4 separate regions of the Homo sapiens genome follow, and regions 1, 2 and 3 are each linked to region 4. Evidence: fine-mapped expression QTL. A gene starts in region 4. Each other region holds a variant in brackets. All regions are shown on one strand. Distances are between the middles of the regions.

The links. PIP is the estimated chance that this variant, and not a neighbour inherited with it, causes the effect.
Region 1: its variant is fine-mapped to the expression of NLRC3 in whole blood (TOPMed, PIP 0.92).
Region 2: its variant is fine-mapped to the expression of NLRC3 in nucleus accumbens (GTEx, PIP above 0.99). The same link has a PIP of 0.9 or more in anterior cingulate cortex, cerebral cortex, hippocampus, hypothalamus, prefrontal cortex and putamen.
Region 3: its variant is fine-mapped to the expression of NLRC3 in lymphoblastoid cells (GENCORD, PIP 0.95).

What each region holds. Positions count from the first base shown.
Region 1 is chr16:3,501,221-3,509,322 of GRCh38, reverse strand. It overlaps CLUAP1 (clusterin associated protein 1), which reads right to left. Exons shown (of 12, transcript NM_015041.3): 2 at 4,492-4,603; 3 at 2,908-2,992; 4 at 855-1,034. Among named protein-coding and RNA genes, the nearest start is that of CLUAP1, 4.3 kb to the right of the region's middle. RefSeq lists enhancers at 6,543-7,059, 7,060-7,577, 8,085-8,102. The variant A/C (reference allele first, on the strand shown) is at 3,182.
Region 2 is chr16:3,536,570-3,544,671 of GRCh38, reverse strand. CLUAP1 (clusterin associated protein 1) reads right to left here. Exons shown (of 12, transcript NM_015041.3): 12 at 5,624-8,102. It overlaps NLRC3 (NLR family CARD domain containing 3), which reads left to right. Exons shown (of 20, transcript NM_178844.4): 16 at 343-426; 17 at 1,164-1,247; 18 at 1,897-1,980; 19 at 2,398-2,481; 20 at 2,757-5,639. The coding sequence ends at 2,847. LOC101929732 (a long non-coding RNA gene) reads right to left here and starts at 2,763. Exons shown (of 4, transcript XR_007064953.1): 1 at 2,370-2,763; 2 at 1-2,284. RefSeq lists an enhancer at 1-249. The variant G/T (reference allele first, on the strand shown) is at 3,947.
Region 3 is chr16:3,618,114-3,626,215 of GRCh38, reverse strand. It overlaps a transcript of DNASE1 not described here. Among named protein-coding and RNA genes, the nearest start is that of SLX4, 11 kb to the right of the region's middle. RefSeq lists an enhancer at 123-222. The variant TC/C (reference allele first, on the strand shown) is at 4,002.
Region 4 is chr16:3,574,136-3,582,237 of GRCh38, reverse strand. NLRC3 (NLR family CARD domain containing 3) reads left to right here and starts at 4,835. Exons shown (of 20, transcript NM_178844.4): 1 at 4,835-5,089. It overlaps SLX4 (SLX4 structure-specific endonuclease subunit), which reads left to right. Exons shown (of 15, transcript NM_032444.4): 15 at 1-1,057. LOC105371060 (a long non-coding RNA gene) reads right to left here and starts at 4,735. Exons shown (of 2, transcript XR_001752061.3): 1 at 3,185-4,735; 2 at 1,017-2,851. RefSeq lists enhancers at 795-1,590, 3,492-3,671, 3,702-3,751 and a silencer at 2,952-3,051.

The DNA.
Region 1 (8,102 bases), 73 kb after region 4:
GTCAATCCCAACCCTCATCACACGGCCTCCTTGCTTTTCCTCAAACACACAAAACACATTTTTTTTCTTCCCCCCAGACAAGGTCTCGTTCTGTTGCCTAGGCGGGAGCGCAGTGCCATGAACATGGCTTGACTGCCTGGGCTCAAGAGATCTTCCCACCTCAGCCTCCTGGGCAGCTGGGACCACAGGTGTGTACCACCACGCCTAGCTAATTTTTTTCTTTTTTTTGGTAAAAATGGCGTCTCACTATGTTGCCCAGGTTGGTCTGGAACTCTTGGCATCAAAGGATCCTCCCACCTCGGCCTCCCAAAGTGTTTGGCTTACAGGAGTGAGTCACTGCACCCAGCCCAAAACAAATTATCATCCTGAGACACCCTGACGCCACCCGCCACCCGCACAACTCACTCTTTCCCTCCCTTGGATCTCTGCTGGAAACACCATCCAATCCATGAGGCCTTCCTGATCACCCGATTTAAGATCACTCTGGGCAGCATCCATCCCCATCCCAGCTTATTATTCTCCACAGCCTGCACTGCATCTGGCCTTCCACACCTCTTATTGTTCACAGTCTGACTCCCCTAACTGAAGAGAATAAACACACGATTTTTGTCCTTTTTGTTCACAACTGTATCCTCAGCGCTTGAATGCTACCTGACAAATACTAAGCTTTTAATAAATAGTTGAATTAGTGGATTGTGACTTTGACTTTATCCAAATGCTGATGAGCACAAAACTGACAAACTGCCCTCAGCTGAGGAGGAAGAAAAGCAGCGGAGCTGTAGCAGACTCCTTCCACTTCAGAGCTCAAGAAATCAACGCTCCATCGCCCACTACAAGGCTTTTGTTGTCCTTACCTTTGAGCCAAGATCAAACTTGAACTTGTTGACATCTTCCTCTACTATTTCAGAGCCCTCCATCCCCTTGGTCTTCATAGCATTATAAAGGACAGATGTGATCTTCAGCAGCTCTTTTACCGCATACCCATCTGCTTGATAAAGCTTCTTAGTGTTGAGTTTTATATGTGCCTTGGTGGCCTATTTTTAGACCAAAAAAAAAAAAAGTTGAAGGCCCTTTCCATGTAATGTCTAAACTAAATCCCATGTAGGTGAGTTGAAAATGCCTCTGCTGACAACTGGGATATAACCTAATAAAAGCAAAGCATTCAAGTGACTCAAACATTGTGAGTGGTTGTATAAACTGGGACAATCTTGATGGAGAGCAATTTGGTAAAAGACATCAAAATTACAAATGCACATATCTTTTGACCCAGCAATCCCAAATCTAAGAACTTATTCTAGGGACACACTCAAACACAAACAAAATGAGATGTACAGGTTATTTGTTACAGCACTGTTCCAAAGAGCAAAGCTTCAGACAACCTAAAAGCCTACCTATATAAATTACATAAATTATGGCAAATCCATGCAAGCAATACCACTCAGGCGTAAACAGAATGAGGAAATTCTATATGTATTTGGAAAGTTCTCTAAAATATACCATTAAGTAAAGCAAGATGCTAAACATCTTGTAGTGTACAGTAAGTACATCAAGTAGAATACAGTACCATTTGTGTAAAACAAAGGAAAAATATATATTTTTATTTGCACACACACACACACACACACACACACACACACACACAAACTCTGGAAGAGATTTAAAATAGTGGTTATTTGGAATGGAACTTGGCCCAGGGCAGATAGGGTAAAAAGTCATTTTACTCCATTTTGTTTCATAATGTTTTTAATTTTTTTTTTTTTTTTGAGATAGGGTCTCACTCTGTCACCTGGGCTGGAGTGCAATGACATGATCCCGGCTCACTGCAGCCTCAACCTCCCGGGCTCAAGCAATCCTCCCACCTCAGCCTCCCAAGCACCTGAGACTACAGGCACGTGTCACCAGGCCCATCTAATTTTTTTTAAATTTATTTTTTGTAGAGACAGGATCTCACTACATCACCCAGGCTGTTCTCAAACTCCTGGACTCAAGCTATCCTCCCACCTTGGCCTGCCAAAGTGCTAGGATTACAGGCATGAACAACCACGCCCAGCCTACTTTCAATTTGTGAGCCATGAAATATGTTATCTATTCAAAAATAAATAAATAAAATTCTTTTTTTTTTTTTTTAAGACAGAGTCTTGCTCTGTTGCCCAGGCTGGAGTGCAGTGGCGTGATCTCGGCTCACTGCAAGCTCTGCCTCCCAGGTTCACACCATTCTCCTGCCTCAGCCTCCCGAGTAGCTGGGACTACAGGTGCCCGCCACCACATCCAACTAATTTTTTGTATTTTTACTGGAGACGGGGTTTCACCCTGCTAGCCAGGATAGTCTCAATCTCCTGACCTCGTGATCCGCCCACCTCGGCCTTCCAAAGTGCTGGGATTACAGGCGTGAGCCACCACACCTGGCATAAACAAAATTCTTAACAAATAATGAATTAAAAGACAAACAAAAAGAACTTCGCTGGTGAAATGGTGCCACAGAAACCCAGCAATGGAATGGTTTTAGAAAGCAAACTCAGGCCAGGCGCGTGGTGGCTCACATCTGTAATTCCAGCACTTTGGGAGGCCAAGGAGGGTGGATTACTTGAGGTCGGGAGTTTGAGACCAGCCTAGCCAACATGGTGAAACCCAGTCTCTACTAAAAATGCAAAAATTAGCCAGGTGTGGTGGCGTGTGCCTCTAATCCTAGCTACTCGGGAGGCTGAGACAGGAGAACCCCCGAGGAGACGGAGGTTGCAGTGAGCCAAGATTGTGCCACTGCACTCCGGCCTGGGCGAGAGAATGAGACTCCATCTCAAAAAAAAAGAAAGAAAAACTCAATTACACAGTTTGAAAGTCGCCCTAACAAGGAGTCATCCTTTCTAGTTTATTTAATTTTACAACTCCACAAAATAAGTGTCCACTAACCATGAACTGGGCAATTGCCTTAATGAAGAAAACTCGGTCCTGTTCAGTATCCACGTCAGGCGGGATGTCAGTCTGGGGCTCATATCTATCAAGAGAGGTAAGAGGAGAGAGCACGGGTTAACCAAGGAGAAAGTCTACTAAAGAGAATGTGGGCAACTGAGAGGACAGCGGGTCTGGAACACAACGCTCTCCAAGTCCCCAAGTGGGAGAGTGAGATCAAGGCAAACTTCAAAAGCAAAACCAAATACCAAGGGAGCAAATCCCCACCTAAGAA[A/C]AACAGATTTCAAAAACTAAATGTGGATCTCAGCTTATAAAATTAAATCTCTCTCAGATCTCACCATGTCATGAAGCTAATCAGAACTGCTACCCTGGCTGACAGCCCTTGACTCAGAGATCAGTGCTAGGGCCGATTAGTCAGCTCTAAGCAGCAGCAGAGTTGGTGAAGTTATTTTCTTCAAGGTATTGAAACCAGGGGTCAGCAGACTGCAGCCTCCGACCTGTACAGCCTGCAAGCTAAGAACTGTTTTTACATTTTAACAAAAAGAAGAGACGCAATAGAGATCTTATGAATTTTATATTTAGCAAAAGGTAAAATATTATCTGGTCCTTAACAGAAAAAGCTGCCAACCCTGAATCATATAACATATTCAATTTTTTCACAGAAAAAGAAATCTCCATTATTTCTAATCCAGTGTACTGATCAGAATGTGCAAAAAGGCCCCTGTCACTCTGCCATGAGGGGCTGAAGAGCAGCCTGGCCCAGCATCCTACTGAGGAATAGTCGTCTCCTTTCACGACTTCCTGGTATATTTCCCACTCCCACAGCATTCTTTAAACTCCACTGATTTTTTTTTTTTTTTTTTTTTTTTGAGACGGAGTCTCGCTCTTTCACCCAGGCTGAACTGCAGTGGCGCTATCTCGGCTCACTGCACACTTCGGCTCACTGCATGCTCCGCCTCCCGGGTTCACTCCATTCTCCTGCCTCAGCCTCCTGAGTAGCTGGGACCACAGGCGCCCGCCACCACGCCTGGCTAATTTTTTGTGTTTTTAATAGAGATGGGGTTTCACCGTGTTAGCCAGGATGGTCTTGATCTCCTGACCTCGTGATCCACCCGCCTCGGCCTCCCAAAGTGCTGGGATTACAGGCGTGAGCCACTGCGCCCGGCCTGATTTTGTTTTTTGAGACACAGTCTCAATCTGCCCGGGCTGGTGTGCAATAGCATGATCAGTGGCACTGCAGCCTCAAACTCCTGGGATCAAGTGATCCTCCTGCCTCAGCCTCCTGAGTCGCTGGAACTATGAGTGTGTACCACCCAGGCTCAGCTAATTGTTCTTTTGTGTATGGAGACAGGGTCTTGCTATGTTGATGAGGCTAGTCTTGAATGACTGAGATTATGAAGTGCTGGGATGAGAGCAGTGAGCCACTGTGCCCAGCCACAACTCCTTTGTAACAGAATACAGCTGGGTCTGTCAAATTCCAAAAACTTTCCCTTTTGCAGCATCACAGCTGTGTCCTGTTTTCTAGATGACTAATAAATAAAACCCAGTATTCACTCTTAGATGTCAATAAAGTGCCGTTCGAACCTTTTCACAAGCCAGAGAAGCACTTCAGATACAAGTCCAAAATTGGGTGTACGGAAATTTTCCATAGAAATATGTCGAGGGTATCCCAGGGCTCTCATCATCTCTGTGAAATCTGTCCAAGGAAAAATACAATTCATTCAGTTCCCCATCACACAGCAACTACTTATTAACTTAGATATTGTCTTTACTTTTCCTTCTTATTTCCAACCTATTGACAGCTTTAGGGACTATTTGTCAACTTTCTACAAGGGAAAGCAAAAAGGAGATAAAATTTAAAATACCAAAAATGCTACCTAAAAAGCATATATTTAAGTTCAATGGGAGAAGTAGATGGCTATACATGAAAATGGAATTGAGGGATTAGCTGTGAATTTCATTTCTCTCTTTAGTATCTCATTTCTTTTTACTGCTAAAAGGAAGAAACACCCGTCCTTATAAAATGTCATGAAGAAAAAGTATTTTTAAATGTCAACAGTGGTTTGACTCAAATTCAGCTGATTAAAAAGTGTTTTAAAATGTTAACAGTGGTTATTTCTGAGGGGAATCCGTAGGATGACATTCATGTTTCTGAGTTGTCTTTTTTTTTAATTTTAGTGACCACATAGGACCCAAATAACACAAGTTTTAAAGATCAGTCGCCTTGTATTTAGAGAAATCTTAAATAGAGTGGTTGAACTATACAACCATATTTAGATTTACTATAAAACAGATTAAGAAACAGTAATACTAATACTTGTTGATCCATAGGTTGGGGTCACCTCAGGAAAAGCCTTAGTGCTTTCAAGAGAGCAGGACTTGGAAATGAACACCACAAACATTTGTTGAGTTCCCATATGTACCAAGATCTACATTCAGTGTGCTTCCTGGTTATTTAAGGTCTGTCTGCACTCTTCTTGAAGATCCATGTTCAAAATGGTCCATCAATGTTCACAAATAACCTACCTAGGTACTGCAAGTCAGGTCAGACTTCGCAAGACAATGAAACAGAAAGTGTGAGCACAGGAAACAGCAAAGTCACAAAGGGACTCTGTAACTGTTTTCTGGGAAATGTGAATACAGAGATTAAAAAAAAAATTAACTGGGTGTGGTGGTGCATGCCTGTGGTCTCAGCTATTCAGCAGGCTGAGGTGGGACGATCACCTGGGCCCAGGAGGTTGCAGTAAGCTCAGATCATGTGACTGCACTCCAGCCTGGGTGACAGAGTGAGACCCTGTCTCAAAAACAAAAACAAAAAAGGCCAGGCGCGGGTGGTTCACGCCTGTAATCTCAGCACTTTGGGAGCCGAGGAGGGTAGATCACCTGAGGTCAGGAGTTCAAGACCAGCCTGACCAAAATGGTGAAACCCCACCTCTACTAAAAATACAAAAGTTGCCGGGCACAGTGGCTCACGCCTGTAATCCCAGCACTCTGGGAGGCCGAGGCGAGTGGATCACAAGGTCAGGAGATTGAGACCATCCTGGCTAACACGGTGAAACCCCGTCTCTACTAAAAATACAAAAAAATTAGCCAGGTGTGGTGGCGGGCACCTGTAGTCCCAGCTACTAGGAGGCTGAGGCAGGAGAATGGCGTGAACCCAGGAGGCGGAGCTTGCAGTGAGCCGAGATCGCGTCACTGCACTCCAGCCTGGGTGACAGAGCGAGACTCCATCTCAAAAAAAGAAAAGAATAAAATAAAAATAAAAATACAAAAGTTAGGTGAGTGTGGTGGCGGGCGCCTATAATTCCAGTTACTGGGGAGGCTGGGGCAGGAGAATTGCTGGGAGGCAGAGGTTGCAGTGAGCTAAGATCACACCACTGCACTCCAGCCTGGGAGACAGAGCAAGACTGTCTCAAAAAAAGAACAGAAAAGAAAGCAGCAGCCTTTCCTTCACACAGTAAGGCACTGCCTAAATACTCCTGACCACTAGGTACTAGTCAAGTTCTGTTAATGCTGCGGTGTTATTGTCAAAATAGACACTAATTTGAGTAAGATCCTTACCATACACTGCACAACTGCAGAGCATTAATTTAAGATCAAAATATTCCGAAATCTCCGTGTGTGCGCTCCCCAACAAAACCCCATTCTACGTCCCCCGGCAGGGTGCTGGCCTCTCTAAAAACTATGTGGGAGGAGACAGTCATCCTGCATGATGTGTGGCCACCAAAAACCTTCAAACCCCAGAGGGCAGGATTCACACTCTGGTGCTCAGTGGCTGCATGGATAAAAGGTAATGCGTCTTCCTAGATATTTTTACATTGTAGAAAAGAGCAATTCATAACCAAAAGGAGTAATCTCTAATGCTAAAATTTCAGGCACCAACAATTGGACGAGAAAACTGGCTTTAAGAGACCCCTCGGATCACACCAAATTGGCAATCATCATCTACCTTTCCTTTTTTTTTTTTTTTTTTAAAGACAGTCTCACTCTGTCGGCCAGGGTGGAGCGCAGTGGTGCCATCTTGGCTCACTGCAACCTCTGCCTCCCGGAATCAAGCAATTCTCCTGCCTCAGCTTCCCAAGTACCTGGGACTACAGACGCGCGCCACCATGCCCGGCTAATTTTTTGAATTTTTAGCAGCGGCAGGGTTTCGCCATGTTAGCTAGGCTAGTCTAGAACTCCTGAAATTAAGTGATCCGCCTGCCTCGGTCTTCCAAAGGGCTGGGATTACAGGCGTGACCCACTGCGCCCAGCCGTAACCAACACTCTTAGCCTCGTTCTTCCACTTCCCCACCCTCTTAGCAAAGGAATTCGAGCTCCCTTCTCCTTACCAGCCCTGCAGAAAGGATGCAGATGGAGTTCAGGATGTCTGGAGTTCAGGCAACCTGAATTCAAGCCCCAGTGCCACCTCCTACCGCCTGTATCACCTGCCCAAGTTACCTGACCTCTCTGTGCCCGTTTCCTCACTACCAAATACAGGGGGCACAGAGTTGTTCAGATGATTAAAATGAAATGCGCATAACACAGAGCGGGCCCTGGCAGATCGTTAAAACTCAAAAAATGTTAGCCGCAATGATTATCACCCAGCCTCCTCTCCTCGGTTTCGTTGCTGGTTGTTTTTTTTTTGGTTTGTTTTTTGTTTTTTGAGATGTTGTTTCGCTCTTGTTGCCTAGGCTGGAGTGCAATGGCCCGATCTCGGCTCACCGCAACCTCCAAAGCGATTCTCCTGCTTCAGACTCCCGAGTAGCTGGGATTACAGGCGCCCGCCACCACCCCCGGCTAATTTTGTAATTTTAGTAGAGACGGGGTTTCTCCATGTTGGTCAGGCTGGTCTCGAACTCCCGACCTCAGGTGATTCGCCCGCCTCGGCCTCCCAAAGTGTTGGGCTTACGGGCGTGAGCCACCGCGCCCGGCCTGCTGTTCGGTTTTCTAAGCGCTAAGCTAACCCAACTCAAAAAATAGTCTCTAAACTCTCCATGCATTTTCCAATACGGTAGCGAAGAGCGGCATGCAGCTACACAAACAGAAATAAATTACACTTAAAAATTCAGTTATTCATCTGCACTAGCCACATTTCAAGCGTTCTGAGCCACACGCGGCCAGTGGCAGATAGAGAACTTTCCATCCTCGCTAGAAATGGCCGAAGAAGGGCCTGGGACGCTCGGCCGGGTTGCAGCCGCGGGTCAGGCGGTCCC
Region 2 (8,102 bases), 38 kb after region 4:
CAAGAATGGCTCAGGGATTGAGGGCTTTAAGTTCATTTTCTGGTTGGCTGTGAAAAGCATCCCCTTTTGGGTCCCAAGCCCCTGCTGACAGTCACTCTATATGTCCCATTTCCTGCTTGCCTCTGGCGGTTCAGACTCATGCAGGCCCCAGACGCCTCTGTGTGCTTAGTATGAGGCGGCGGGCTGCAGGGCCTGTGGAGGAAGGGCAGTTATCCCCAGGAAACCCTGGGAGTGTCTATGGTGTGTGTAGTCGGTTAAACCTGGCAGGTCCAAGTGCGGCAGGGCCTTGCTAGAATGCTCCCTGTGCCCCGTGCACCCAAAGGGGTCATACTCTGTGTCTAGTTTACAGGAGAACGCCATCGGGGATGACGGAGCGTGTGCGGTGGCCCGTGCACTGAAGGTCAACACAGCCCTCACTGCTCTCTAGTAAGTCCTAGATGTGCGCAGCAGTCAGGAAACCGGTCCCTTCGCCATCCTTTCACGTTAGAGGTCTTTTTTTTTTTTTTTTTCCTCGAGACAAGAGTCTTGCTCTGCCACCCAGGCTGGAGTGCAGTGACATAATCTCAGCTAACTGTAACCTCCACCTCCTGGGTTCAAGTGATTCTCAAGCCTCAGCCTCCCATACAGTAGTTGGGATAACAGGCGTGCACCACCACACCCAGCCTAATTTTTGTATTTTTAGTAGAGACGGGGTTTCACCATATTGGCCAGGCTGGTCTCAAACTCCTGACTTCAGGTGATCTGCCCACCTCAGCCTCCCAAAGTGCTGGGATTACAGGTGTGAGCCACCACACCTGGCCTGGACGTTATTTTTGTTTACAAGTCAAGGAAGGTGTGTTTGATTTTCCTAATATAGGAAATATGATATTAGCAGTTGGGGGCTCAAACACCTAGAGAGTAGTAATGAGGAGGTACAGGGAGCATTCTCCCCGAGCCCTTCCAGGGACAGCCTCTATTTCTCATCTCCTTAGCATCCAGATCTCTGTCTTAGGCAACAGACAGTGTAGGTAGGAGATGGAGTGCCTAGACACAGCGCTGGCCAACCATTCTCAGTGCTGTTTCTCCACTTTCCATCCTGAGTCAAGGGGTGGTGAAAGGGAACGGAGTATGCGGAGGGAGGTGGGCCCAGCCGGCTCACACTGACGGCACCCTCTCCGCCCCAGTCTCCAGGTGGCCTCAATTGGTGCTTCAGGCGCCCAGGTGCTAGGGGAAGCCTTGGCTGTGAACAGAACCTTGGAGATTCTCGAGTAAGTATTCCAGTCTCCATCTATGGTCTTTAGCCCAAAGAAATCAATGAATTCTCAATGAATAGATATGGGGACAAAGTTTACAGACAACTCACAAATCATCCTGGTGATCTTCATTTCAGTGCAAGTATACCAGTTTCCCAGCCCCACTTCATGCCTTTCCCTGGGAGTCGCTATCATTTGCCCTCCTCTCCGGGTTGGCCTTGCCAGGCTGAACACGTCTAGAGGCCTGGTTTATGGGTCCCAGGGGGGCTGATCTTGTTCTCTGGGCAGATCCAAAGTCCTGGGGTGAGGTTACAGCTCTGAGGCTCAGGCATGTCCTCAGAATTCCTGCCCTTGCTGGGAGCACTGGGGACCTGCCCAGATGGAGGGCTGCCTCTCCTGTCTCAGCCCCGCTTTTCTGTTTGAAATGGAAGAGGAGGAAGGCTCCAACAACCCTCCTGGCTAGGCCAGCCATGCCCCTGTGTGCCCTGCTTCCCAGAGCCAGCTCTGCCCTGTTGCCCTGGAGTGAGGAAGGCACAGCCCTGGCCTCCTGTGACTGCTGAAGTCCTTGTTTCCTCTACCAAGCAGCCCCAAGCCCACCCGCAGAGGGGTCAGTATCACCTCTCAGCCTGTACCCATGCCTTAGGCTTCCTGTCTTTCCCAACAGCTTAAGAGGAAATGCCATTGGGGTGGCTGGAGCCAAAGCCCTGGCAAATGCTCTGAAGGTAAACTCAAGTCTCCGGAGACTCAAGTAAGTGGCTGGAGGGACCTACCTGCATCCTGGAGCAGCAGAGTTCTCTGCTGGGTCCTCCCTGATGGAATAAAATGCTCCTGATTTCTTCTGTAGCTATTTCCTTCTGAATATAAACAATCAGACTTATTATAGTCCACATTCCACTGCAGCTGGGTTTGTTGAGTGTGCTTAGCTTCAGTCAGAAGTCACTCACATCTTGCATTTATGGCCTTACATCCTCCAGCGCACTTGCGTGGGACAATCTGGCCACTCGTAGACACCTGTCTCCAGGGTCAACTCCCACCTGGAGTTGCCATGGCACCTGTGGACACATCTGCCTGGGTTACTGCCCCCAGACAATGCACTGTTGCTTCCCCGGGTGTTTTCCTTCTGCCCTGATGGCTCACCGTGTGTCTCCATCTCTTTTCCACTTAGTCTTCAAGAGAATTCTCTGGGGATGGACGGGGCGATATGCATTGCCACAGCACTGTCTGGAAACCACAGGCTCCAGCATATCAAGTGAGTGCACCTGCCCTTCCTGCTCACCCTTAGAACTGCTTCCAGGTGGCGCACTGCCTTTTGCCCAGTTCTGAGAGCCAGCTGACCCCCAGACGCTTCAGCAGGCCTATAGGGAAACCTGGTCTAAGGGGAGGTACCCTGAGCCTTGTCCATGTAGCGAGGGGATCCTAGAAGCACAAAGGCTTTGCATGGGGTCCTGCATTTTCTATTGTATGGCCTGCTCTACTAAAGAGAACCTGCAGGCTTTGAGCCCTGCCTTAACCCTACTCTTCTAGTCTCCAGGGAAACCACATTGGGGACTCCGGGGCCAGGATGATCTCAGAGGCCATCAAGACAAATGCTCCCACGTGCACTGTTGAAATGTGATCCTGGTGGACGGATCAGGAGAATGGGCAGATGCTCAGCTGGAAGCTTTTGAACAGAAAGGCCGACTTCTGGGGGGCCTGTCTGGGAGCTGGGAACGCTGCTTGCTCAGCACGAGAGCCGGGCTCTGCAGGGAGGAAGGAGAGGTGCTGCCGGAGGAGGTCGTGAGCTCCTCTTCTGCTGCAGGAGTGGTCCAGGCAGGGGGTGACGGGTACTCTGTTATGGCACAGAGAAGGGAGGGGCCACCCCCAAGGGACTAGGGGCCAAAGGCCTGAAAGCTGAGCAGTACAGGAGGCTGGTTCCAGCTTTACACCCTGAGGACTTCATGTGTCCCCAACCTTTAAAAATGTTTATTACTGCCCCTTTCCACTCACCTGGTTAAAAATCATCCCATGCTCTGAGATGAGCTGCCACCTCAAGCCCGTGAGGAGCATCCGTTTGGTAGGGGTAACAGAGGGGACCCTTCTTTATCTTCTCAAGAAGAAGATTTCAGGGTATCATCCTTACAGACATGAAAAAGCTATGGGAAAATTGTGAAGATAAATGAAAGTTTTAATTCTAGGATTCTGGAAACAGAGACAGTAAGAGTTCTCCAAGGATTTTGCCTTTTTTGTTTGTTTTTGAGATGGAGTCTCGCTCTTGTCGCCCAGGCTGGAGTGCAGTGGCACGATCTCAGCTCCCTGCAACCTCCGCCTCCCGGGTTCATGTGATTCTCCTGCCTCAGCCTCCCCAGTAGCTGGGAATACAGGCACCCGCCACCATGCCCGGCTAATTTTTGTAGTTTTAGTAGAGACGGGGTTTCATCATGTTGGCCAGGCTGGTCTCGAACTCCTGACCTCAGGTGATCCATCAGCCTGGGCCTCCCAAAGTACTGGGATTACAGGCATGAGCCACCACACCTGGCCCCATTTTTTATTTATTACAAAATCAAAGACATGGGTGATGCCTGGCACATGTTGTCTGGAGTCTGGCACACTGGTTATCAATAGCACATTCAGTGTATTCAGTGATGTCATTCTTTATTTATTTTTGAGACAGAATCTGTCACCCAGGCTGGAGTGCAGTGGCATGATCTCAGCTCACTGTAGGCTCTACCTCATGG[G/T]TTCCAGTGATTCTCCTGCCTCGGCCTCCCAAGTAGTTGGGTCTACAGGCACGCACCACCACACCCAGCTAATTTTTGTATTTTTAGTAGAGATGGGGTTTCACCATGTTGATCAGGCTGGTCTTTAACTCCTGACCTCAAGTGATCCACCCACCTCAGCCTCCCAAAGTGCTGGGATTACAGGTGTGAGCCACTGCACCTGGCAGTGATGTCATTCCTTACTAGGCTTCCAAAGCCACTGCTGTGGCCACAGCTTCCATGGAGACAGGCAAGCTGAGCCTCTATGTGGCACCAATTCCTGCAGCTGTTTGTGTTGGAGGGAAAAAAATCCAAATGGACATCAACAGCTTTCATCAACTAAATAACCACAGAAAATATTTATGAAGACTATAAAGCAATGATTACTTTTGAATTGGAAAGGAATCACTATTATTTGAAATGTTTCTTCAAAAGTGAGCATCCGGACAGGAACCATCATGGATGCTGAGGCCATGGATGAAGGCCTACTCGGGAAGATGATATCCTTGCAGTCTCAAAACGGCACCCCACAAAGGTGATATCCTAATTTACAAAGGGAAAAAGGTACCTTAATCTGAAATCTGGCAAATGCAGCCTCAACAGAAGTGACAGAATTGAACATCGCCAATAATGGGACACACAGACATCACATGCCCCCAGTCTGATGCACCACGGAGTCGTCTCTGATGTATTCTTGTCAAAAAATGTTTGCCTGATTCTAATCATGAAAGAACAATTAGAAAAAATCCAAATTGACAGATATTCTGCAGAATAAATGGCCTGACCTCATCAAAAACATCAATGTCATGAAAAACACAAAACATTGCAGATAGCGTGAAATTAAAGATTACAGAGATATAATTTAATGCAAGATCTCTGACTGGATCCTAGACTGCAGGAAAAAGTCTGCTATAAAGAACATTTGGATCACTTGTAGTAGCTGGGAAATAAAACAAAACATTATTTGTAAAAGGGGGGAAATCTGAACATGGGTCTTGCAGTATTTATGACAGTTTTTGCGGGGCAGAGATTTCTAGATTGACAGCTGTTTTAGTACTTTCAAGGTGATGCTCTGTCTGCTGGTTTGCATTGTTTCTGTCTGAGTTAAGAGACTGGCAGAACACAGAGTTGCAGTAGCCAAACACTGGAGAAAGCTGGGCCCTACAGAAACCTAACGCTGAAGAAACCTCAGGAGCCAAACTGGTGGAGAAAACAAAGAGTCCTCCCTCTCTCCCTTTTCAAATAATGATCATACATCTTCAAGCTGTCTGAAATGGTTAAGGAGTTCAGTCTGTCGTCAGGCACACACCAGAGCCAGCTAGCCCACACAGACCCCATCAGAGCAAAACAGACAAGAGAATTTAATTCATATCCACATAGAAAGGACTTCTAGGTAGGAGGTAGACCCTTTAGCTCCCTTCCAATTAAAGGAGTCCCCAATTCTGGCACCTGAGAGTCCCCTGGGTCTAACAGCTATGATATTTATGTAGTGTGTTGCTTACCTAAATGAATACAATTTCCTTCCAGACACGTGACACTGATATTAAAGTGCTAATGAGAGGGATCTATTTCTTCTTGTACGCTAAAAGAGAAACAGCAGTTCAGATTTCCCATCAGAAGTCCGAGGACTTTGTTCTTGATAACTACTACCAATAAAAATTGAGTATTTGAAAAATTCCTTTGTATTTTCCATCCATACACATTTTTTTTTAAAGCATTTTAGGAAGTCCTCTAATTATATAGTAAAAATTGTCAGCAATGGCCTGCTAGTTTTCTATTTGACCTAATCACAACCATCCTCGTTAGGTCCTGAGGTCTGCTCTGCTGCTTGGCCAAAACCAAATGGTGCCAGGTCACAAAGCACTTGCACATGTGAATCCTGCATCCATTCTACAATGGGTCACTATTGACTGAAATACTTTAATAAAAATGATAGAGCACATAAAGCTTGCTGTTGACAGAAACTTCCGTGCTCAAGCAAGGCAGTGCTATACATGGTGAGACCTTGCACAAAGTCAGTTAACTAACAGATGATCTAGAAGCAGGTGACACAATGAAATACCCTTTGGAGCTGTTGCCTATGTCTGTGGATAGGCTCTTTGTAGCTAGGTTAGGCTTCTGTGTTAAAGTGTGTTAGAAGAAAGCATCACATAAGGAAAATAGAACTCTATTCGTATGTTTTTTCAAAACAGAAGTCAAGTCACATTCAGGCAAACCAAATCTGTAACATTCAAGAAGATGCAGTGACTCTTCCGCATCTTAGAGCCACGGTGTCTGAGGTGGCTGGCATGGCTCCAACACGCTGGCTTCCCTGTCAGTGGATCATTTACAATATGGTGCATTTCAAATTACTGGTGAATTCACTGAATACTGGCTGTTTTTTTTTTTTTAGGGGTAATCTTATACATAAAATTTAGGAAAAGAAAGAGAAAAAAGCAAAAATGACAGAAATAACTCAAAAGTTCCTAAAATTTATGTGTATCTTTTCGTACCTGTGAACTCCTGAATAAGTATTTATATCTGACAGGTACAAATACAATAATTATATTTTTAAGTAAAACCTATTTAATAATATGAAGTATGGTGTTAAATACATGTATTAAAAGATAAGTAACTTCAGAAGTCTTCTGACTTTTTAATTGTAAAATAAGTGAAAACTGTTTTGTGCTTTTTTATTTACTGTATGCTTTTTTTTTTTTTTTTTTTTTTGAGATGGAGTCTCACTCTGCTGCCCAGGCTGGAGTGCAGTGGCGCCATCTCGGCTCACTGCAACCTCCGCCTCCTAGGTTCAAGCGATTCTCCTGCCTCAGCCTCCCCAGTAGCTGGGGTTACAGGCATGCGCTACCACGCCCGGCTAATTTTTGTATTTTTAGTAGAGGTGGGGTTTCGCCATGTTGGCCAGGCTGGTCTCAAACCCCTGACCTCAGGTGATCTACCCACCTCAGCCTCTCAAAGTGCTAGGATTACAGGCATGAGCCACCACGCCTGACCTACTGTACGCTTTTTACAAGCAGCGTGCTTTTCTTTTTCTTTTTTTTAAAGACAGGGTCTCACTCTGTCACCCAGGCTGGAGTGCAGTGGCATGATCACGGCTCATTGCAGCCTCAACTTCCTGGTCTCAAGTGATTCTCCTGCCTCAGCCTCCTGAATAGCTGAGACCACAGGCATGCCCCTCCACACCTGGCTAATTTTTTAATTTTTTGTAGAGATGGAGTCTCACTTAGTTGTCCAGGCTAGTCTAAAACTCCTGGGCTCAAGTGATCCTCCCACCTTGGCCTCCTGAGTAGCTGGACCCAAGGGCGCTTGCCACCACTCCCAGCTAAGTACTTTTCATATTAAAAAAAAAGAAGAAGAAAAAAGAAAAAAACCAACTCCACTTCTAATTTCACAACAGAAAAATTCTTCTAGTGCTATTACTCTACTTAATTCAATCCTGTGTTGTTGTTTTTTTAAATCAGAAACATGAATCTGTACCAACACTTTTTCTTAATTGGCTCCTTCCCCTACAGAAACACTTAGGTAGCGAGCTGCAGGAAACCTGCCTTTGTCCCTGTGTTGTGCACTATGTCTTGCCACACTTTAGACAAAACAAAGCTCCTTTAGAGAAACCCTGGCTGGAGGGAAGAAAAGTGTCCCGGCTGTCATTGCCATGGGAGTCTGGAGTTTCTGAGAGGGCAGCCCAGGTCACCAGAGTTTCCAGATTTAGTACCAACCGTGGAAACATGAAGGTGGCTGTAATCCAAGGTGAACTGGACTGCCAGAGGAATGTCAGCTTCGGACAGAAAATGGAGGATTCCTCATCTGGAGCCTGTCTCTATTGCCTGATTTTCAAAGAAACCAAGTTTTCATTTAACTTTAGCTAACCTTCTTTCAGAAAAGTTTAGTTATTAAAATACATTTAATGCTTGGTATTGTGAACATGCAGACGAAAGAAAATAAGATTACAAAATGAAATAAGAGCTAGAATTAAAAGCCGATGTATAGGAAATGTTCTCAACTGTGCAAGTGATTAACAGCCAGATGTTCCCCTACGATTCCAAACATGAGTCCCCAGTGCCAAGTTCCAGCCCCAACTCTGCTGGAGTCTCAGAGAAAATGTATAGTAACAAAAGCAGCCAAGACTTGTGTGGCGTCAGCT
Region 3 (8,102 bases), 44 kb before region 4:
TATTTTTTTTTTTTTAGGATTTCTTTAGATATTAATCCTTTGTCATTGTGCATATGATACTAGTCCCGTGCACATCACACACATCTTCTAGTCTGTGGTATCTTTACACCCTTTTTGAGATAGAGTCTTGCTCTGCTGCCCAGGCTGGAGTACAGTGGCAGAATCACGGCTCACTATAGCCTTGGCTTCTCAGGCTCAAGTGATCTTCCCACCTCAGCTTCCAGAGTAGCTGGGACTACAGGCGCATGCCCTGACACCCGGCTAATTTTTAAATTGTTTGTTCAGACAGGGTCCCACTATTTTGCTCAGTCTGATCTCAAACTCCTGGGCTAAAGCGATCCTTCTGCCTCGGCCTCCTGAAGTGTTGGGATTACAGGCATGAGCCACCATGCACAGCCCTTTACACCCTCTTAATGGTGCCTTATAAAGGTTCTTAATTTTAATGTCACATAATTTGTCACTTCTTTATGGTTAGTGGTTTGTGTCCCTGTTTAAGAATTTTTTGCCTACCCCAAAGTCATGAAGATTCCCTCCTATGCCTTTTTTAGCACCTTTATTCTATATTGGCCGTTTCATTTATTTATTTATTTTTTGACACAGGGTCTTGCTCTGTTGCCCAGGCTGGAGTGCAGAAAGGCGATTATGATTCACTGCAGCCTCGACCTCCTGGGCTCAAGCGATCCCATTTCAGCCTACTGAATAGCTGGGAGTAGAGGCATGTGCTACCATGCTGGCTAATTTTATTTAAACAATTTTTTTTTTGCAGCGATGGGTCTCACTACACAGCCCAGGCTGGCCTTGAACCATGGGCTCAGGCAATTCTCCCTTCTCAGTCTCCCAAGTTTCAGAGACTACAAGAATATAACATCATGCCTAGCCCCATTAGTTTGTTTTATTGTTTTTTGTTTTGGAGACAGAGTCTCACTCTGTTGCCCAGGCTGGAATGCAGTGGTACGATCTCGGCTCACTGTAACCCCTGCCTCCAGGGCTCAAGCAATTCTCCTGCCTCAGCCTCCCAAGTAGCTGGGATTACAGGCATGCACCACCACACCTGGCTAACTTTTGTATTTTAGTAGAGACGGGGTTTCACCATGTTGGCCAGGCTGGTCTTGAACTCCCAACCTCAGGTGATCCGCCCGCCTAGGCCTCCCAAAGTGCTGGGATTACAGGAGTGAGCCACTGCCCCCGGCCCCCATTAAGTTTTAATAAGAAAAACTGCAGGCTGGGCATGATGGCTCACACCTGTAATCTCAGACTGTGAGAGGCTGGGGCAAGCAAATCACTTGAGCCCAGTTCGAGACGAGCCTGGGCAACATGGCAAAACCCTATCTCTACTAAAAATAAAAAATAAAATAAAAAATTAGCCAGGTGTGCTGGAAGAAACCTATATTCTCAGCTACAGAAATAGAATACAGGCTGAGGTGGGAGGACTGTTTGAGCCTGGGAGGCAGAGGATGCAGTGACCCAAGTTCCCACTACTGCACTCCAGCCTGGGTGACGACAAAGTAAGACTCCATCTCAAAAAACAAGAAAAGAAAAATTGATTGCAAAAAAATTGTTACACAATGTTTGCTGGTTTGGGCCACCACTGGGAATGGCTTTGCCTGTCTAGATGTTCGGATGCTGAGCACAGTCCACCCAGTTGGACTGCTCCAGGTATAGTACACAGTGGCTGCTAGATTCAGGGTCTTATGGGAACAGCTTCAGCCACTGTGAACTCAGCCAGGGGCGGCAAGGGCATTCTGAAGGTTTAGAGCTCGGCATAAGGGACGCTAACCCAGTGCCTAGAGCACCACCAGGTGCCTTACGCAGCTGGCCAATAACAATTTTAATGTAAAAATAAAAACTCTAGAAGAAAACATGCAGAAAATTACTTTATAATCTCAAAGTAGAGAAGACCTTGCTAACCAAGGACACAAAAGCCACTAACCTTTTTTTTTTTTTTTTGAGACAGAGTCTCACTCTGTCGCCCAGGCTGGAATGCAGTGGCACAGTCTAAGGTCACTGAAACCTCTGCCTCCCGGGTTCAAGCGATTCTCCTGCCTCAGCTTCCTGGGATTACAGGCGTGCACTACCGCGCCCAGCTGATTTTTGTATTTTTAGTAGAGACGGGGTTTCACCATGTTGGCCAGGCTGGTCTTGCACTCAAGTGATCCGCCTGCCTTAGCCTCCCAAAGTGCTGGGATTACAGGTAGTGAGCCACCGCACCTGGCCTCCATACTGTTTTCTATATAGAGGTTATAGTAATTTACAGTCCCATTAACAGCATATAAGCATTTCCTTTTCTGTGCATCCATGCCAACATCTGTTGTTTTTTGACTTTTTAATAATAGCCATTCTGACCAGTGTAAGATGATATCTCACTGTGGTTTTGATTTGCATTTCTCTGATGATTACTGATGTGAGCACTTTTTCATGTTTCTTTGCCGCTTGTATGTCTTCACTTGAGAAGTATGTGTTCTTGTCCTTTGCCTACTTTCTCTCTAATTCCTGGCCTCAAGTGATCCTCCTGCCTCAGCATCCCAAAGTCCTGGGATTACAGGTGTTAGCCACCACGCCCAGCCTTTGCTCACTTACTAATGGGTTTTTTTTTCTTGTTGAGATCCTTGGAGATACTACGTATTAGTCCTTTGCCAGAGGCTTAATTTGCAAATATTTTCTCCCATTCTATAGGTTGTCTATTTACTCTGTTATTTCTTTTGCTGTGTAGAAGTGTTTTCATTTAATTAAGTCCCATTTGCCTATTTTTCTTCTTGTTGCATTTGCTTTTGAGGTCTTAGTCATATATTCTTTGCCTAGGCTAATATCCAGAAGAGTTTTTCCTAGGGTTTCTTCTAAGATCTTTAGAGTTTCAGGTCTTATGTTTAAGTCTTTGAGTTAATTTTTGTATGCGGTGAGAGATAGAGGTACGGTTTCATTTTTCTATATATGGTTAGCCAATTTTCCCAGCGCTATTTATTGAATAGCGTGTCCTTCCCCCACTGCATATTTGTCAACTTTATTGAAGATCAGTTGGTTGCAGGCAAGTGGCATTACTTCTGGGTTCTCTATTCTGTCCCACTGATCTATGGTACAAAAATATGTACAAGTACCATGCTGTTTTAGTTACTGCATGAGTAGCTAGGACCACAGGTGTGCACCACCATGCCCAGCTAATTTTTTTGGGGGGACGTGGGGGGCAGGTACATTAGAGATGGAGTCTTACTATGTTGCCGAGGCTGGTCTCAAGCTCTCAAGAAATCCTTTCCCCTCACTCTCCCAAAAGAGGCCTTGTAGTATAATTTCAAGTCAGGTAATGTGATGCCTCCAGCTTTGAAGAACCTTTGTTCATTACAAGGCATCATTAAGAGAACGTAAAGGTGAGTCAAACACTGGAAGAAGGTATGTGCATACAAGAAAAGTTATTTTACTACAAAAAACTGTAAAGCTCTACATGGAAAAAATTTTATTAAAAGTCAAAGCCAAGCCAGGTACAGTAGCACATAGGTGTAGTCCCAGCTACGTGGGAGGCTGAAGTAGGGGGATCACTTGAGCCCAGGAGTTCAAGTCTAGCCTGGGCAACATGGTGAGACTCCACCTCAAAAAAGAAAAAAAATTTTTTTAAGTCAAATGATAAAAACTGGTAAAAACTATCTGTAACATTGTAACACTATATCCATTTCCACAATATAGAGTTCTTACAAATCAATAGGAAAAAGATTAATCACATAATCTTACAAACCAATAGGAAAAAGATTAATCACACAATCTAAAAGAATGCAAAGCCCACAAACATAAGGTCATAGGTAAACAAGTAGCTTTTAATCACGTGAAGAAAATACTCGTTTCCTCAATGAAAGAAATGTAAAGTAAAGCTACAAGACACCAATTTTTAACCGCTGAAATAGTAAAAGACAAAATGTTTCATGATATATTCTGTGAGTGTGTGGATATGAGTAAAAAGACATTCATTGTTAACGGAATGGAAACTGATTCAGCCTCCGTTTTTTTTTTTTTTTTTT[TC/C]AGTCTTGCTCTGTCACCTAGGCTGGAGTACAGTGGTGTGATCTTGGCTCACTGCAACCTCCACCTTCCGGGTTCAAGCGATTCTCCTGCCTCAGTCTCTGGAGTAGCTGGAATTACAGGGGTGCGCCACCATGCCCAGCTAATGTTATATTTTTAGTAAAGACGGGGTTTCAACATGTTGGCCACGCTGTTCTTAAACTCCTGACCTCAAGTGATCCACCTGCCTCGGTCTCCCAAAGTACTGGCATTACAGGCATGAGCCACCACGCCTGGCCAATTTGGCTTCTTTAGAAGGTAACTGGGTAACACCCCAAAACACTCTGATTTACCCATATCCTTTGACCCAGCAATTCCACTTATGTTACAGGAATATCCTACAAATATATGTGCAAATCTGCATAAAAGTATATACAAGTATGTTCAATGCACCATTAGCCATTGTAGAAGGAAATGAAAGCCATCTAATGTCCCTTGATAGGTGATACAATGAAGTATGAATGTATCCAAATGATGACATATAATGCAACTGCTAAACAAAATGATAGATTTATATGTAATAAGGAAAAATCTCCAAGACAGTTCATTAAGTTGCAAAAACGAGGTTCAGAACAATGGGTAAAATGTGCTACCGTTTATTTACATTGGGGAAAAGCAGGGATATATATTTATATTTGTATGTGCACAGAATTATCTGGAATATTTCAAGAAGCCTCTGATGAGGGAGTTTGGAGGTCAGGGGGCCAGAAGTAGGAGGGAATTTTTGTACCCTTCTGAAGCTCCTGGACAAAAAAAATTAACAATGTACAGGTATTCTTTTCTAAAACAGGTAAACCAGGCAAGAGCAATGGCTCATACCTGTAAACCCAGCACTTTTGGAGGCAGGAGGATCACCAGAGGCTAAGAGTTTAAGATCAGCCTGGGCAAGATAGCAAGACCCCATATCTACAAAAATTTTTAAAAGTCAGTTGGGTGTGGTGGCACACGCTTGTACTCTTGGCTACTCGGGATACTGAGGCAGGAGGATTGTCTGAGCCCAAGAGTTCGAGTCTATGCTCGTGCCACTGCATTCTAGCATGGATGACAGCAAAACCCTGTCTCTAAAAAAAATATAAAATAGGCCGGGCACAGTGGCTCACACCTGTAATCCCAGCACTTTGGGAGGCTGAGGCGGGTGGATCACGAGGTCAGGAGTTCAAGATCAGCCTGGTCAATATGGTGAAACCCCGTCTCTACTAAAAATACAAAAATTAACCAGGTGTGGTGCAGGCGCCTGTAATCCCAGCTACTCCGGAGGCTGAGGCAGGAGAATCGCTTGAACCTGGGGAGCGGAGGTTGCAGTGAGCCGGCATTGCGCCACTGCACTCCAGCCTGGGTGACAGAGTAAGACTCTGTCTCAAAATAAATAATAAACTTTTTAAAAAAAAAAATCAGGCAAACCAAACAAAACACACATACCCTTTAGCCTAGAAATCCTAGATTTAGGACTCCTTCCAAAAGAAATAAAAACACACACATACAGGTTATAAGTACAAAGACATTTATTGCATAATCTATAATGATAAAAACTATAAATATATCTTTATCAACAGGGGAATGTTTGATTAAATATGGAATATAATATGGCTTCCTATCTACTGACTTAGAGAAATGCTCATGATGCAATATGCATAGTATAATTACTTTTTTTTTTTTTTTGAGACAGGGTCTCACTCTGTCACCCAGGCTAAAGTAGAGTGGCATGATCACAGCTCACTGCAGCCTCGAAGTTACAGTGAGCTATGATCAGGCCACGCTGCACTCCAGCCTGGGTGACACACTGAGTACTCTGTCTCTAAATAAATAAATAAAAGGTTTCTTTACTAATTATACGAAGCCTTTTGATCTCTGAAATGCTTGTTACCCAGTCACGTGACTAAATGATGTGATGAATGATGTGACTCAATGAATGTAATGTGGTAAATATGACATGTAAACTTTTTAAAAGAAAAGCCATACACAGGCCTGGCGAGGTGGCTCATGCCTGTAATCCCAGCGCTTTGGGAAGCCGATGCGGGTGGATCACTTGAGGTCAGGAGTTCAACACCAGCCTGGCCAACATGGTGAAACCTCATCTCTACTAAAAATACAAAAATTGGCCAGGCGTGATGGCGCATGCCCGTAGTCCCAGCTACTCAGGAGGCTGAGGCAAGAGAATCACTTGAACCCCGGAGGCGGGGGTTGCAGTGAGGCGAGATTATGCCACTGCACTCCAGCCTAGGTGACAGAGCAAGACTCTGTCTCAAAAAAAAAAAAAAAAGAAAAGCCATACATATGAATTTTCGTTATATTTATAACCAATCTGCTGACTCGATGAAATATTTAGTAGAGCTGTAAATGGAAATTAGAATTTTTAAAAATACTGAGGGCCAGGCGTGGTGGCTCACACCTATAATCCCAGCACTTTGGGAGGCCAAGGCAGGAGAACCACTTGAGCCCAGGAATTTGAGATCATCCTGGGCAACATAGCAAGACCTGTGTCTACAAAAAAAATTTTTTTTTTAATTACCTACAGGCGGCCAGGCACAGTGGCTCATGCCTGTAATCCCAGCACTTTGGGAGGCCGAGGTGGGCAGATCACAAGGTCCGCAGATAGAGACCATCCTGGCTAACACGGTGAAACCCTGTCTCTACTAAAAATACAAAAATGGAGCTAGGCGTGGTGGCGGGAGCCTGTAGCCCCAGCTACTCGGGAGGCTGAGGCAGGAGAATGGCATGCAACTGGGAGGCAGAGCTTGCAGTAAGCTGAGATCACACCACTGCACTTCGGCCTGGGCGACAGAGCGAGACTCTGTCTCCAAAAAAAAATAAAAAATAAAAGAAAGAAAGAAAATTACCCACAGGCCAGGCATTGTGGCTCATGCCTGTAATCCCAGCACTTTGGGAGGCCAAGGTGGGCAGATCACTTGAGCGCAGGAGTTTGAGATCAGCCTGGGCAACATGGCAAAACCCTTTCTCTACTAAAAATACAAAAAATTAGCCAGGTGTGGTTTTACATGCCTGCAGTCCCAGCTACTAGGGAGGCTGAGGCAGGAGGATCACTTGAGCCTGGGATGTGGAGGTTGCAGTGAGCTGAGATTGCCCCACTGCACTCCATTCTGGATGATAGAGTGTAACCCCGTCTCAAAAAAAAAAAAATTACCCAGGGGCCCTTCTAGCTCTAGCTACAGGTAGGCTGAGTCAGGAAGATAAGGAAGTTGGGAAGATCAGAAAGATCACTTGATCCCTGGCAGTCTGAGGCTGCCATGAGTCATGATTGTGCCACTGTACTCGAGCCTGGGCAACAGAAATGAGACCTTGTCACTAAAAAAAAATTACAAAACGGAAATAAGCAAATGTTCAGTGTAACATGTATTCCATTCTATACTACATTTTGTTCATTCATGCACTGAAGGGCATTTAGACTGAATATGAGGTGTACACGTTTTTGTTTGAGCATTTCTTCTTTTTGACGGAGTTTCATTCTTGTTGCCCAGGCTGGAGTGCAATGGCACCATCTCAGCTCACCATAAACTCTGCCTCCCAGGTTCAAGTGATTCTCCTGCCTCAGCCTCCCGAGTAGTTGGGATTCAGGCACCCACCACCAAGCCCGGCTAATTTTTATAGTTTTAGTAGAGACGGGGTTTCACCATATTGGCCAAGCTGGTCTCAAACTCCTGACCAGAGGTAATCCGCCCGCCTTGGCCTCCCAAAGTGCTGGGATTACGGGCGTGAGCCACCGCGCCTGGCCCTTAAACACTTTTTCAATTTTTTGGGACATATCCTTAGAAGCGGAATTGCTGAATCATATGATGATTTTATCTTTAACTTGTTCAGGAACCTCAAACTGTTTCCCACAGCAGCTGTACCATTTTACATTCCCTCCAGCAATGTATCAGAGTTCTAACTTCCTTACATCCTCACCAATACTTTTTTTTTTTTTTTTTTAGGAAATGGCTGTCCTACTGGCCATGAAGTGGTATCTCACTGCAGTTTCAATTTGCACTTCTCTAACGATTCATGATGCTGATCATCTTTTCATGTGCTTGTTGGCACCTGCCACTCTTTGGAATGTCTATTCAAGT
Region 4 (8,102 bases):
TTTCTGGGCCTGGGGACCACATCAGCTCTGCGCTGTGATGATGACCACAGCCCAATCCAGGGCTTCCTCCTCTGGGCTCTGCTTTCTAGGGTGGCATTTGGAGCATGTCACCCACTGGATTTACAGACTCCAGCCCCTTCCTCTGTCCGTGCTCACAGTGTGTCTCCCTTTTTGGTTTTCTTTTTTTTTTTCTTTTTGAGACAGTCGTGCTGTGTCACCTAGGCTGGAGTGCAGTGGCACAATCTCGGCTCACTGCAACCTCCGCCTCCCGGGTTCAAGCAATTCTCCTGCCTCAGCCTCCCAGATAGCTGGGACTACAGGCACACGCTGCCACGCCCAGCTGATTTTTTATATTTTAGTAGAAACGGGGTTTCACCATGTTGCTCAGGCTGGTCACAAACTCCAGAGCTCAGGCAATCCGCCTGCTGCGGCCTCCCAAAGTGCTGGGATCACAGGCGCCAGCCACTGCGCCCGGCCCAGTGTGTCTCCCTTAACCCAAGAGGGCCCTCAGCTGTCCCAGGGGGCAGTGGGCCATCACCAGCTGGCCAGGGCATGGCCTATTCTGCCACATTTGCCACCCTCTGAGCCCACCAGTCCTGGGCACAGCTGCCCTACATGTCTGTCCTGAGATGGACGTCAGGTCCAGCCTGCCCCGGCAGCCCGGGCCCGTCCTCCTCAGCACTCAGGCCAACCCCAGCCACCGCCAGCCTGAGACCAGGTGTCCTGAGGCTCCCTGCACTGCCACAGCCCAGATGCAGTTCTCCTGACCCAGCCGTGCTACCCGGACACTTGTCATTGTTACCAGCAGTCTCCAAACTGGACAGTGCACAAGGGCCCAGAACAACTCTGATGCCACCACAAAACAAACATGTTCACTAGCGGATTCCATTCTTTGGGTTAAAGCTGCCTCCAGCCTCAGGAGCAGTGTGGAGGAAGATGAGGGCCAGGAAAGAAGGAAACCTTGGTTTCTCCATCCTTGTGAATGTCCTCGTCTGTTTCAAATACAGTGCAGTCAGTTTTATATGATGTGCAATAAACCAAAAAGGCTTTATTAAAATCTGGCTGCCACACTCCAGGGAGACCACGAGCGAAACGGGGGACCTGGAGGCACCGTGGCCCCTCAGCCCGTGCCCCACGCCTGCAGAAGTCCCCACCTTGCACCTGCCCTTTACTTTGGAGTAACCTGGGCCTGCTGTCTCCTCATTTCAGTTCCCAGACCAGAGATGCAGATGTTCATCCATTAATCCACACACCCGTATCCAACAGAGCCCTGGCTGGGTGCCAAGCTCCAGCCCCCGCACCTCAAAGTGGGGCCCAAGCACCCCCAGCTGCTGCCTCAGCCGGGAGTTGCTACAAAAGCAGATTCAGGCCCCACCCCACAACTCACCAAGACAGCACATGCCTTTACCATTGCGTCCGGTCCAGTGGAGGAGACAGACGCTGGCCTATCCCAGCCTGGTGGGGAGTCGGGCTCCAGTGGCTTGAAGGGCCGTGTCAGGGACAGCCTCCCAGAAGAGGGGTTTGTGAGCTGCATCTTAGGGCTCAGCAGCATTTAGGGGGTGAAATGTGATTTCTGGCGCACATACTATGTCCTGGCACGTGAACCAGCGGAGAGGCCCAGGCCTCCCAGCTTACGGTGCCCGGGGCGAACAATTTGAGAGGCTGAGATCAGCTGTGATCAATCTGAGGCTGGCCTCTGGCCTGTTTCGGAAGGCATCACGCACTGCTTCCTTGATGGGCTGATCCCCCTCCCTGGTGTTAGGGAAGCGAGAGGGAGTGGTGCAGGTGGGGGACTCGGGGCCCCTGTCCGGCCTCGCAGGGTTTGTGGTTTGGGGAAGTATGTGTTATGTGCCATGACTTGAAAGTTCAGAACTTCAAGGCTGGTAAAGATGGGTTGGGGGAGGGGTTCCAAGTAGTTAACAAGCTGGGTTAGGAGCCTTGAGTGCAGTGTGAGCCCAAGGCCAGGGGAGGCATGGCCTGGGGACTGGATTCGAGCCTTGTGGTGACCTTGGATTCAGTTGGGGCTGCTGGACGCTCCCTGGGCTGACAGCGCTGGGCAGAGGCTTGGTTTATGCACTGCCACCCAGCCAGGGGACTGGATGCTGGCCCTGAACCTGTACAAAGCAGCATTTCCTTGTCCTGAAACAAGCTGTGAAGCAGCTGATTCCTCCAGAGGGAAAGGGTTGAAGGAGTCACTGCAGGAACCCACAGAGGCGTGGTGGCATCCAGGAGTAGACCTGGCCCCTGCTACAGGGATGACGCTGACCCGGGCAACATAAAACTAGGTCCAGTTGACAGATGGAAAATGCCTTCTCACAGCGCCTGCAGCAAGACTGGCAGGCAATGGGGCCTCTTCATGGACAAGGCGAGAGAGAGTTACCTTCCAGGAGTGACTGAGAAGGAAGCTGGCATGCCGGGTGCGGTGGCTCCCACATGTAATCCCAGTGCTTTGGGAGGCCAAGGCAGGAGGATCACTTGAGCCCAGGAGTTTGAGACCAGCCTGGGCAACATAGTAAGGCCAAGTCTCTATTTTGAAAACAATATTAAAAACATTTCTAAAGGGGGAGAATAAAAGACTGGCAGCAGAACTTTCACTGGTAACAACTAAATCAGAAAACGGGTCTGTCTATGCCTCACTGTAATATGAACAGGCCTCCAGGCCTGTCCCACTTTTGGTGGCCCCAACCTGGCATGGCTTGGGCACAGCCCCTCAAGGCAGTCACAGGGGAGCCACACCCCAGCCTGGGCCCAGGCAAGGGCACTTACAAAGAAAGAGCCTGCAGGCAGGGGCCTTGCGCTGTTGCTGAGTTAGGAAGGGCTGAGGTCGCTTCCTGTCTGGCTGACCCCAGCTCTGGGTGGACAGAAAGCCCCAGAGTGAGAACAGTTAGGGAGCCCCCAGCCCAGCACCCCCACCTCCACCAGGAGCCAGGAGGACGGCCCACCTGGTTCTCAGCAGAGCGGGCAGAGTGGGGAATGGGACCAGCCCTGTGTGGACTGATGGACATTCCTGCGAGGGGGAGGAACGGGCGGGGCGGGGCGGGGCGGGGCTGGGCTGGGCTGGGTTGGGCTGCTCCCCAAGATCCCGTGGATGAGGCTGTGTCCTCTCAGGCTCCGCATCCATCCCCCTGAGCCACAAAGGGAGGCAGTGTGAGCCTCTGGCCCCTTTTATGTGACGGATACCCACCGGGCCCTGTGGTTTCCAACATCCTGTGGGCGGCCTGGTTTCAGGCGCCTTTGTTGCTCCCCACAGCCGAGGCTGCAGCTGCTGGGTCTGCACTCTGCCTGCCTGGAGCCTCGGGCAGCCTTCTCGAGGGTCCATCGTGTCCTCCCAGCACCCAGCAGGTTCCTGGGTGCTCAGAAAGCATTGTTGGGAGGGAGGGAGAGGAAGGAGGGACAAAAGAAGGTAGGCAGGCAGGGGAATGTGCAGGAGCACTTCTGGTCTGCTGCCTCAGTTCCCTCCCCCCCATCACCCACACAGGCTCTGGGGAACCAGCTAACCCTCCTACCTCCCCTGAGCCACAAGCTGCTCTATGAGTCCAGACCCACTACTCTCCTGCTCTACAACCATTGCTGGCTCCCACTTGCTTGCTGAGGAAAATTCAGACCCCAGGACCCCTGTCCCTTGGCTCCCACCTTGTCACCTCCTTCCCTCAGTGGCCCCATGTTGCTTGCTCCCTGTCCCCAGCGGATGTCCCATACTTTATTGTAATTTTTCTCATGTGGCTTGCTCTGGGCCATGTCCTTCCCCCTCACGCCCTTCCCTGTCAGGGCAGGCCACCCACTGAGGTCCACTTCCAGGGGCCGAGTGCGATCTCCTGCCGCGGACGGCAACATTCTGCTGTTTCCTCTTAGGGTACAGGTGACCTGCCTCTGGGGAGCCCTTTGCTCACAGGAAGATGTTATGGGGCACAGCTGAGTCAGAGGTGCCTACTGGGTGACAGAGAGAAAAGAAAGCAAGAGGTGTTAAAAGAGGGAGCACAGTGGCTCACACCTGTTATCTCCGTGTTTTGGGAGGCCAAGGCAGGAGGATCACTTGAGCCCCAGGAGGTAGAGGCTACAGTGAGCCGAGATCACACCACTGCACTCCAGTCTGGGTGACAGAGCAAGATCCTGTCTCAAAAAATAAATAGGCTGGGCGCAGTGGCTCACGCCTGTAATCCCACCCCTTTGGGAAGCCAAGGTGGGTGGATCACCTGAGGTCAGGCGTTCAAGACCAGCCTGGCCAACATGGCAAAGCCCCTCCTCTGCTAAAAATACAAAAATTAGCGGGGCATGGTGGCGCATGCCCGTAATCCCAGCTACTCAGGAGGCTGAGGCAGGAGAATCTCTTGAACCTGGGAGGGGGAGGTTGCAGTGAGCCGAGATCGTGCCATTGCACTCCAGCCTGGGCAACAGAGCGAGACTCTGTCTCAAATAAATAAATTAAATAAATAAATAAGGAGAGCCACAGGGGTGGCCTGGAGGTGGCAGGGCACAGTCCAGTCCTGCTGGGGTCACCCTCTAGTTGCGTGACCTCAGGCTGCTCACTTGATTTCCTGACCACCCGCCTGAAAACAAGCATTTGTTGATGGCGGGGCAGCTTCCTTTGTGGCGGGATGGAGGTGATGTGTCAACAGCCTTGGCACCAGCCACTTTATCCTGAGCATGCCACCTGCAGGGACACTTAATCCCAGAGTCAAGACCCCCAGCATCGCCCCCGCACTTAACTTGCACGGGGGCGGTGACCAAGCCAGGGTGCCCCGGCTCCTCGATGTGTCTGCGAGGCTGTTGGCTGTTGAAATCAGACAGGAAGGAAGAATGAGGTGGAGCCCAGCACAGGAAGAGGTGAGGACCCGGAGCCACAGGGACAGCCGGTGGGCTCGGTGGGGCTGCAGAAGGTCGGGGCTGCACTGCTCTCGGCCCCCACACGGTTGGTTGGTTGGCGTGGTAAGTGCCCTGATCCCTGGTCCTGAGAACTCAGGCTGGCACAGGGATTCCCAGGGCATCTACCACCACGCAGCTGGAGCAGGGCTGAGCCCAGGAGCATGGAGATGGACGCCCCCAGGCCCCCCAGTCTTGCTGTCCCTGGAGCAGCATCGAGGCCCGGGAGGTAAGTTGGGTCCAGGTGACCTCAGTGCAGGGCAGGGGAGGGAGAAGGGATGCTGGCAGGAAGGACAGTGGCCTTAAGGCCTGAGCTACTCTGGGGAGGGGGACTGGGGAGACTCCACGAGACTCCAAGAAGCTGTCTCCTGGGGCAGGACTGGCTCATGCTGTAGAAAAAAGAGATGTGGCCAGGCACGGTGGCTCACGCCTGTAATCCCAACACTTTGGGAGGCCAAGGTGGGCGGATCACTTGAGGTCAGGACTTTGAGACTAGCCTGGCCAACATGGTGAAACCCCATCTCTACTAAAAATAAAAAATAAATTAGCCAGGCATGTTGGCAGACGCCTGTAATCCCACCCAGCTAGTCGGGAGGCTGAGGCAGGAGAACCGCTTGAACCCGGGAGGCGTAGGTTGCAGTGAGCCGAGATCGAGCCACTGCACTCAATCCTGGGTGACAAAGCGAGACTGTCTCCAAAACAAAACAAAACAAAACAAAAAAGAAAAGAAAAAACAGGTAACTAAGAATGGCCCAGGACAGGTCCCAGGGACAAAACCCAGCTCCCCCAGGTACCAGTGATGGCCCAGGAGAAGCAGGAAGCATCTTGAAGGTGCTGCGGGCAGGCAGTGGTGATGCTGAGCCACGGCCTGGGGAATCGGCAGACCTGGGCACCCTTCCTGGCACTGGGACCCCCCATGGGAGGCTACTTCTCTGGGCCTCAGCACCCCACCTGTAGATGGAGGTGACAGCACAGGAGGGGCGAGGTCATGAGGGGCAGGGAGGGTGCAGGCGCCGCCCCCAGGCGAGTGGGCAGCCCCAGGGCCTCTCCTGCCCACAGCCTTGGGTGAGACAAGGGTCGAGAGAGACGGCAACCGCAGAGGCCTTCTCGGAAGAAGTGCCACTGCCCTGGGCCAGCCTGGGTGTTGGCTGCAGGGTCTTCCCCTATGGCCAGGCTCCAGAGGCCCTGGTGTTTTTCTGGACCCCTCCCTGGAGGTGACCCTGAGCCTGGGGCTCACTGTTGGCCATCACAGGCTGCAGGCTGCACCCCTCTTCTTCTGTCCCAGGGTGCTGGGCTCCCCAGGGCTGGGCCTCTCCACCCCTTGGACTCCAGGGGTCCATGCAGTGAGCAGGGTAGGGCCCTGAGGTGCAGGTGCCACTTCCTTCTTCCTTCGGGAAGGCTTTTGAGCTCAAGTGATGATGCTGGGGCCACCTCGAGAGAACCGAGTCCTGAATTCCAAGGCCCTGGGAGGGGGCAGGGGCAGGATGTGGGAAGAGAGGAGCATCCAAGCAGCCGTGGTGGGAGATACTGGCAGCCCAGGTAGGCAGCCAGCACTGGGAAGTCCCACCCGGGCGCCAAGTGGCAGGGAAGGACCCAGCAGGTCCCGGCAAGGACTGAGGCACAGATCAGGTGGGCGGGTGATGGGCAGAGGCGGCTAGTCCGTCGGGACTGAGGCTTCTCAGGAATGAGGCAGCAGGCCACTTGCTGAGCCTGAGGAACTGGGCTTGAGCCCACACCACACCAGGAAGGCCTCAGGTTCACCTTCGCTCACAGACAAAGCTCTAGGGGTGAAACCTGGTGCTACCTGGGAGGCTCCCGGGGAGGAGGCAGCAGTGGCACCTACTCGTCCCTCTGGCCTCGCCCTGCTCGCAGCAGCTCAAACCAGCTGTGGAGCGACCTCTGGCCTTCAGATCCCCCAAAGCAACCCGAGTCCCACCTGTCCTCAGTCTCTCTGTCTTTCAGCTGCGCTCACAGGGGCCGCCTGACCATCCATAGTGGCGTCTGCGGCCTCGCGACCTCACTCGGCTGAGAGGTCTGTGGAAGGCTCCAGCCTGCCAGGGGGATGTTAGGGCTGCGTGCAGGGCCTGGCAGCGGTGGCAGCCAGGTAACCAGCCCCCATCAGCCTTTGGGGCTGGTCCTGGGAGGTGCTGGCAATGGCAGGGGGGTTGGTTCACCTGCACCCCCTCCTCTGTCCTTCTTAGGGACAGTGTCCAGGATGAAAGCCACGTTTCGTCTGAATGGGGCCTGAGCAGGGATGCCAGATCAGATACAGGACACTTGGTCAAATGTGAATTTCAAATAATCCATTTCTTTGGTATGTCTCCAGTATGACATAAGCTATGCTTATACTAAAAATTATATGTCGTTTATCTGAAATTTAATTATCTGTGGATATCTCATATTTTATCATTATTTTTTGAGACAGTCTCGCTCTGTCACCCAGGCTGGAGTGCAGTGGCGTGATCTTGGCTCACTGCAGCCTCCACCTCCTGAGTTCAGGCGATTCTCCTGCCTCAGCCTCCAGAGTAGCTGGGACTACAGACATCCACCACCACGCCCAGCTAATGTTTGTATTTTTCGTAGAGATGGGGTTTCGCCATGTTGGTCAGGCTGGTCTTGAACTCCTGACCTCAAGGTGATCTGCCCACCTCAGCCTCCCAAAGTGCTAGGATTACAGGCATGAGCCACTGTGCCCAGGTTTGTCTTGTATTTTAATTTGCTGAATCTGGCAACCCTGGACCCAAGGTCATGGGGCCACAAAGATGGGTGTCTGATCAGGAGGGAGTGCTGACTCCCAATACTGAGAGACTAATGAGGCCACAGAGGCAGGGGTGCTTGCCAGCCCCCTACACCCCGTCCCCGCCTTCCCAGGCGCTTGTGAGTCCTGCCTCGCCCCAACCCCTCACTCCTGCCAGCACTGTCCCTCCCTCATTCCTCTCCCAGCCCCGCTCGGGTCCCGTGGTTCTCAACTCTGGTTAGAACCACCGGAGGAGCTTAAACTAGATCCACGTGGGGGCCCTTGCCAGACCAATCAAATCTCTGGGTGGTCAGGCCGAGCGTTGGTTATTTAAAAGCCGTGCTCCACAAGGCCGGGCGCAGTGGTTCACACCTGTAATCCCAGCACTTTTGGAGGTCAGGAGTTCAAGACCAGCCTGGCCAACATGGTGAAACCCTGTCTCTACAAAAATACAAATGGTATTGATGGTGGGTGCCTATAATCCCAGTTACTGAGGACCCTGAGG